Linked DNA regions of Homo sapiens. The protein of the gene in region 2 interacts with the protein of the main gene of each other region in a pairwise test. Each region holds a gene or a part of one and is shown on either strand. Other genes may lie near its edges.

Region 1 (3,822 bases), on a different chromosome or scaffold from region 2:
AAGCAGTTCACATAACATAATTTAAAAACTTGCTGAATTGAACTGAAGTTCAGAAAATAAACTATAAATCCAAGAGGTTACTTCCCAAAAATCATCAATATCTTTAAATAGAGTAGAACCACTCTTTAATAAACACAATGAGGATTTATAGTTGAACATTTAAATAAGTTTGTTAAAGGAGAGAAACACACACATACACCTGTCTCTCTCTTCAAATACTTTAACTTAAAACATATATAGGAAGTATATAGTCATTCTCTAACTTAATGACATAGAGCAAATTCTAGATTTTAGAGTTTTGCTTCTTCCTTATATAGGCCATAACTGTCATCTATATTGTTCAGTTTCCTTTTCTGTTTTCTGGTTTTTTGAGACATGGGCATGCTCTGTTGCCTAGGTTGGAGTGCAGTGGCGCAACCATGGTTCACTGTAGCCTTGGACTCCTAGACTTCAGAGATCCACCTCAGCCTCCCAAGTAGCTGGGACTACAAACGTGTGCCACTACACCCAGCTACTTTTTAAAATTTTGGTATAGATCTCATTATGTTGTCCAGGCTGATCTCAAACTCCTGGGCTCAAGCAATCCTCTTGCCTTGGCCTCCCAAAGTGCTGTGATTACAGGCGCGAGTCACTGCACCTGGCCAATTTCCATTTTTTAAGAAGTGACTTAAAAACCTGAGAAACAGAATCCTTCTAGAGTTTTACAATTTTTTCCCCAACCTTACACACTTTAAATATTTAAATTACATATAATATTAAATATGTATTTAATTACATAACTACATAACTACAATAACAAGTACAACTGGCATAAGAAGGTTGATGGCATTCACAATGCATTCATTATGCTGTGGGTATCAGTGAGTACCTTTTATGGAAGAACTGGGGAATGACAGTTACTTCAATGAGACAATTAAGTGGAGGTTGCTTAAGAGAGTTTCCCGATACTGCAACTGAAGACAGTCCTTCATGAATACACATAATAGCAGAATCACTTTCAAATTAAATGGTCTGAGCCACAGCTTCTATATTTTGGTAAAGAAAGCATTACATGTTGTATACCCCCAATATCCAGACTTGCTCTTGCCTATCAATTCTAGTACCAATTATGGGCCCCATGTTGTCCACACCTTCAAATTACTTTATCTTGGAGCAACACACACACACACACATATATATGCAGTGTGTGTGTGTATATATATATATATATTTTTTTAATCATAGCTCAGTCAGAATCTTAATCCCAGAATCAAGATCTCCTTGTAGTTCATCCCCTAAACCTATTCCTCACCTTCTCTGTATATGTTTCTTTTAGTTATCCTGACTGCCTGCTTGTAATTGTGACCATGTATTCAACTTGTACTGCAACACCTATAATTTCCTTTCCCTTTATTGCTTGACCAGACTTTTGACTAATCACATTACCTTTAGAATATATGTAAGCTACTTTTCTTCCCAATTGCTATCCAACAGCTTGTCCTATACTTAGTATCTATATAGAGCCAGATTTCTACATACCTTCATACTTGCCCAGTTCTTGTAGATTTCTTTCTGGTTTTTCTTCTCAGTCTACATTCTAACTTTTCCACTTTGCCTTGTCACTCCCAATTCTACCATCTTTTCAGCTAAAATCCATAGTCACTCATGATTGCTAAGATAACATACAAAGTGCAATGAGTACATGCAGAATGGAAAAGCAGTGGCTCTTATGGCACTGAAAGATCCCAGAGAAACCCTAAATTATGTTTTCCACATGCTTTTGCTATGGCATAACAAATGAACTTAGACATATGAGAAAAGTTTCAGGTAACAGTTGAAACAAAAAGATTTTCTGGATTTTCTAGTAAAGAAATTAAAGGAATTAGAATATTTATTATTCCTCAGGAATCTGAATTGTTAAGTTTATCATATATAAATCTTCTAAAGAATGATCCATTTTATTATAATCTTATTTTTAATAGTAAATATTGAGTACAGTTACCTATTAAGTTTGAAAGAATAAAAATGATTGCTGTTTGATCCTCATAGTCTCATTCTAATGTTCACAGTATATAACCTTTGTGTCATTTCCAAACCCGCACTTAGTAATAATTACTGCAAGTTTAAAAAGCAGCATTATTTTTTAAATCAACATATAACAACTTCCAAAGTTTTTAACATCTCTGAAATTTTATTTAAGAAAACTGAAATCATTTTTTCTTGATAAAATCTTCCTTTTGACTAAACACATCAGAAAGAAAAGGCACAAAGATTACTCCAACCTCTGATTCCAGAATAATACTGATTAATAGAATGCCACTTCAACAGTCAACTGCTTCAAAGTACTTTAAGACTACTATATCCACAGAAGCACAAATAATGATAAACATATGGCTTTAGTCACTATAAATATGGTTAATAGGAACCCCATTTTTGAAAAATCAGAATATGTTTTCCATTCATTTAAACTACTCTAATATGTTATCAACACACAGATGCATGTACCCATATAGTCTTCCTCCCCAGCTATGAAGTGTTACTATCTCTATTAAACATATTTTTCCTAAAAGACAATATTAAATAGGTTCTTTACTTAAGTATGCCTTCAATTTGACAAACATGACTCAAGTGCAAAAGAAAGTAATTAGGTAAATGTTAGCTATCACAACAAAACCTGTTAAGAGGTTTTTATGTGAGATGTTCTCCTAAGCATTTAAAAGATAAAAGCACATGGTCTTATAGGCTAGCATACATCAAATTAAAAACGTACCAATTTCTTCCACTTCTTCCAAGAAATCATTGTATTCTCTTAGACTAGGAAAATCTTCTTCCCTTTTATTGTATCTTTAAGAAAAGAAAAAAGAAATCTACATATTACATATCATTGCTTTTAATATTATCTAACTGGTTTGCTTGTTCTGACCTAATTCATATATGATACATGGAAAAGAATTGCTTACTGTGTAAAACATCGTTCTCTATTTTTTTATTTTTATTTTTTGAGATGGAGTCTTGCTCTGTTGTCCAGGCTGGAGTGCAGTGGCACAATCTTGGCTCACTGCTACCTCCATCTCTCTGGTTCAAGCAATTCTGCTGCCTCAGCCCCCCGAATAGCTGGGATTATTACAGGCGCACACCACCATATCCACTTAATGTTTTTTGTATTTAGTAGAGATGGGACTTCACCATGTTGGCCAGGCTGGTCTCAAACTCTGATCTCAAGTGATCCACCACCTCGGCCTCCCAAAGTGCTGGGATTACAAGCATGAGCCACCGCGCCCAGCCTAAAACACTGTTTTTCTTGACACCAGGTTTGTAACCAGACCAAAAATGCAATTCTTAAATTCTTATGACTACGGAGAAGAAGTAGGATCAGGAGAAAATGGTACAATATGCAAAATCCTTGTTAAGACTTCAGGGAAAGATAAATTGGGAGCTTGAAAGATTGGGAAATGAGCTTAAGCAAGACATAACATTGGAAATTATGGTATTATTTACTTCTAAGGGATTCACTAATTTCCAAAACACAAAAAATTGAAGCGACTCCTCCATTTTTCATGACATAGTCTAAAAAATACTGGATCAAGAAAATCTGTATATATTGTAATGTACCTGTAAAGAATCAGTAAATTGCAAGGAATTACCAATGAAAGATCAAAATCTAAGAGACTACCTTGCAGAAGTTATACAAACAATAAAAGAGCCGCTAGGCGGATTGATAAAGTATTATTGGTTATGTACCTAGAAAGATGCTGCTAAAACACTGGTTACCTGGGTTGAAATGTATACCACCAAAAATAAAAATAAACATATCAATTATTTCTCATAATAACAGATAAAAGG
Region 2 (4,282 bases):
AGTAGAGACGGGGGTTTCACCATGTTAGCCAGGGTGGTCTCGAACTCCTGACCTTGTGATCCGCCCGCCTCAACCTCCCAAAGTTCTGGGATTACAGGTGTGAGCCACCACAGTTGGCTTTATAATACTTTTAATTTCAAAAGCCGCAATTACTTTTGCACTAACCTGATAGTAATTGACTCCCTTAAAAGTAGTCAAAGCATATTCCCAAGGTATTGGATGTGGATACATTTTTGTGGGAAAGTTGTTAAACTTCCAACAAGTTTATAATTGTCCTTGATCACCATGCATGAGTCAGATGGAGAGGGCAAAAATGAAAATTGTACCTTGTCAGGTGGTTTCCAAAGGTGGCACCTTTTATTATGTAATGTGCTCTACAGGAGGTAGACTAGGATTGTTTTGATGCATACAGCACAGAAAATGAATCTATCAACTTATATTCCTCATGAAAATGGAGCATGCTGTTTGTGGAGGCACAATGTGGGGTCATCCTGTGACCAAACGAGTGGCAACTCTTGTTCAAGTTTCCTCCTCGTTCGGTTTGATTTCAAGGTTACCTCAGTTTCAAAGCAGCCCTTTCTGTCCAGGGCACAAAACTCCTGATTTACTACTTACAACTAGTGGTTCTCAGCCTCAGATTCGCGTAAAAATTACCTGGAAGACTTTTCATTTTTAAATAATGTTACTGATATATATGTTATATGCAATAATATGCACCCATTTACTGTGCACAGTTTGATGAGTTTTGAAAAAGTTTTACCCCTTTTAAAGATTTAGAGCATTTCCAACACTCCCAAAAGTTCCCCAGGTCCTTTGTAGCCAACTTTTCTCAGCACCATCCACCTCTCCGCCACCCATCCTCCATCTCCTAGCGGGTGACATGGTACTTTGGTAGGTAGCACACAAGTGGATCGTTGGAGCTGAAGGATAATTCAAATTGGTAAACTGATTCGAGGGACCATGTGCAACCATGAAAGTGGTAGGAGAAGGGGAGTTGGGTGTTTAGCTGGCCTGGGAGGCAGGGAAGGTTAAAACAGGGCTTTTCAAACACAGCACTATTGATGTTTTGGAATGGATCATTCTTTGCTGTGGGAACTGTCCCATACATTGTAGAATGCTTAGCGGCATCTGTGACCTGTACCCACTAAGATGCCAGTAGCATTCCCCTAGTTAACAACCAAATATCTCTTCAGACATTGCCAAATGTGCCATCTAGTGCAAATCCTCCATTCTGCCCTCGAGAATCACTGGATTAAGAGCATTACCTTCTGTCCAGAGGCTCTAAAGGACTACACAGCTCATTTCACCTAGACGCTCCTTCCCCTTTTCTCTTCCTGACAGCCCCAAAAATTTCACTTTCATTTCTCAGGCAGTTCCTCCTCAGGAGGGAGGGACTTCTTCACACAGAGGAACCTCATTTGTTGAATGAATCCTGACCACACCCACCCTGGCTTTTCTTCACCTCTTCAACCAGGAGCCGAGATTTCTGTTGCTCTGAAGGTGTGTGGGGAGGTTTGTGGGGGGTAGAGGGTATGAGACTCCAGGAGAAAAGTTCTCAGTGAAGTTAGGGGAATTTGATTTATGGCCCCAAGTCTCCCCTGCTCTGTCGGGAGCAAAGGCTAGCTTGCAGGCTTCCTGCTTTGAGTGCACACTGATAGCAGCCTAGAGTCTGGGGAGGGACAGCCTTGAAAGCAGTGTTAAAGAGGCAGAAGGCCGCCTTTGTTTTCTGGGGTGTCTTTTTTTCCTCCAGGCTGAATCTATTTCCATTCCCTTCCTATTGTATAATTTTGATTTTCTACCTTGCAAAGGAAACAATTCTCTCTCTCTCTTTCTCTCTCTCAAAGAGATGAACAGAAGATCTCTTATTTTCCACCTCCTACTCCCTCCTCAAAAGAGAAGTTGGTGAAAGGAGGTCTCTGTTTTCCAAGTGTGTGCAGGGCTTAGCTCCTAGTATGTGGCGTCAGATAGAATGGAGCCATGGGAGCACGGCCAGGGGTTGAAGTGGGTTCTTTTGCTGCCCTCCTGGCAACCACTAAGGGGCTTTCTGTGGCCATCCTCACGTATTCTTAGTCCTTGGCCTCCCTGACAATAGCAGGTTGAGTGATGTGACTGCCGCACACCGCTCTGTTCCCTCTGTTCCTATGTCTTTCTGCAGGTCTCAGGGCTCTCCTTGCACATCCCTGAACATACCTGTTTACTTTTACTTCAGTAACCCATGTGCTACCAGCGTCTTCACCTGTCTCAGAACTTGCTCCTCATCATTCTTCCTCTTAGACACACCTTGGCATTGATTTGTAACCTCAATTTGTTATTGCTTTTCTTTGCTCACAATTACTTAACAGAAGTTGTTCATTGTGGGCTCAGAAGGAGCCCACGGATTTAATCTTCTTGTTAAGAATTTGATATAGAGTATGTCCTATCTTAAGCTCACTTGTGAGCAATTTGCACCTTGATTGATATGTTACAGATATTCTGACACATGCCATTCTGGCCTCTGCTCTCACCCTTCAGAGTTCACTGTAACTGCCATCCTGTGTCTCTGCCTTACTCCTGGGTAGAATCCATGTCTGCCTACATACTGACTGTCTCCCAGAGGCGTCTAGTCAGGCACAAGACCCAACATATGGGATAAAATTGATTATAAAGCAGGCTGCTAATGTAAAAACGTGCAATTAGCATCCATTTAACATTCAATAAATATGAAATATACGTGGAAGCCTACATCCAAATAGAAAGTGATCATAGACCATATCGATGAATGTTAGAGTACACAAGAAGATGACTAATACTATGGAGTAACATCTTCAAGAAGTTACATTAGGGTAATGACTCTGTAAAGACCTCATGAAGGCCTTGCAACTTTAAATAGTTTTTATGAAAGTTTTAAATAGTTTTCATTGTAAGAACACATTTGAGTAGAATCTTAAGAATGCGAGGAAATTAAAGGCTTTAATGGTTTTTCCCACGGGCTTAAAAGGAGAACAGTGTGGAAGATTAAGATGGGAGTGTGCCTGGAGAGGCATAAAAGGTGAGTTCTTACCAGGCGCGGTGGTTCACGCTTGTAATCCCAGCACTTAGGGAGGACAAGGCAGGAAGATCACCAGAGATCAGGAGTTCAAGACCAGCCTGGCCAATGTGGTGAAACTGTGTCTCTACTAAAAAAATGCAAAAATTAGCCGGGTGTGGTGGCGGATGCCTGTAGTCCCAGCTACTCGGGAGGCTGAGGCAGGAGAATCAGTTGAACCCAGGAGGTGGAGGTTGCAGTGAGCCAAGATCTCGCCATTGTACTCCAGCCTGGGGGAAAAGAGCAAGACTCTGTCTCAAAAAAAAAAAAAAATATGGTGAGCTCTGAGGATTGAGGCAGTGGGAAGGCATGTGTGATGTGGACCTAACTGGACCATTATGAAGTCTGGCCTCGCTCTGGGTGGCATGGGTTTGAACAGGAGAGTGACATGATTGACATCTGCTTTAAGGTGATCACTCTGTCTACTGATGTAAGAACAGAGATGAGAGCAGAGTGAAGAAGGACAGTGATGGGTGGGCACAGTAGCTCACACCTGTAATCCCAGCACTGTGGGAGGCCAAGGCGGGTGGATCACCTGAGGTGGATCATGAGTTTGAGACCAGCCTGGCCAACATGGTGAAACTCTCTCTACTAAAAATACAAAAATTAGCTGGGCGTTGTGGCAGGCACCTGTAATCCCAGCTACTCGGGAGGCTGAGGCAAGAGAAGCGCTTGAACCCAGCAAGCAGAGGTTGCAGTGAGCCGAGATCATGCCACCACACTCCAACCTGGGTAACAAGAGCAAAACTCCGTCTCAAAAAAAAAGGAAGGGCAATGATAGTATCAGCAAGACTAGTGGAAGAACAATTTCCTGAATTCAGGTGGTTTCTACCAGAGTGGTGGCAGTTGAGGTGGTTGGAAACTAATTTGAAAAAAAACTCTTTCAGCATATTCTCACGAAGTAACAGACAGAAAAAGACATTAGGGATTGCTTAATGAAAATGATTCTATGTTAAAAAATAGCTTTTTGGAGATATATTGACCAGAACACTACAGCTCTTGGGGAGAGAGTCATTAATGTGGTATAGATTGGGCCCTGGACTCTAAGGAGTAGCTGAAGCAAGAACTCAGTGCACAGAGGAATGGGGAGGAGATGCTACAATGTTTCTGAGCTCTCAGGGTCTCTGGATGTCAAAACAGGCTCTACTTTCCTTATTGGCAGTTTCTGACCAAGAATCCAGAAGAAGTGTCTAGGATATTGTCTAGAAACTTCAAAAG

The links.
Region 1: the proteins of TRIM34 (region 2) and MNAT1 interact in a two-hybrid assay, tested with the Homo sapiens proteins (one large-scale study listed by BioGRID and IntAct).

Annotation. Positions count from the first base shown.
Region 1 is NC_000014.9:60,797,088-60,800,909, reverse strand, and holds part of MNAT1 (CDK-activating kinase assembly factor MAT1), read right to left. Parts: intron 2,824-3,822; coding exon 2,750-2,823; intron 1,652-2,749; exon of another isoform or gene 1,519-1,651; intron 1,499-1,518; exon of another isoform or gene 869-1,498; intron 1-868.
Region 2 is NC_000011.10:5,623,561-5,627,842, forward strand, and holds the start of TRIM34 (E3 ubiquitin-protein ligase TRIM34), read left to right. Parts: upstream 1-1,440; 5' UTR 1,441-1,500; intron 1,501-4,282.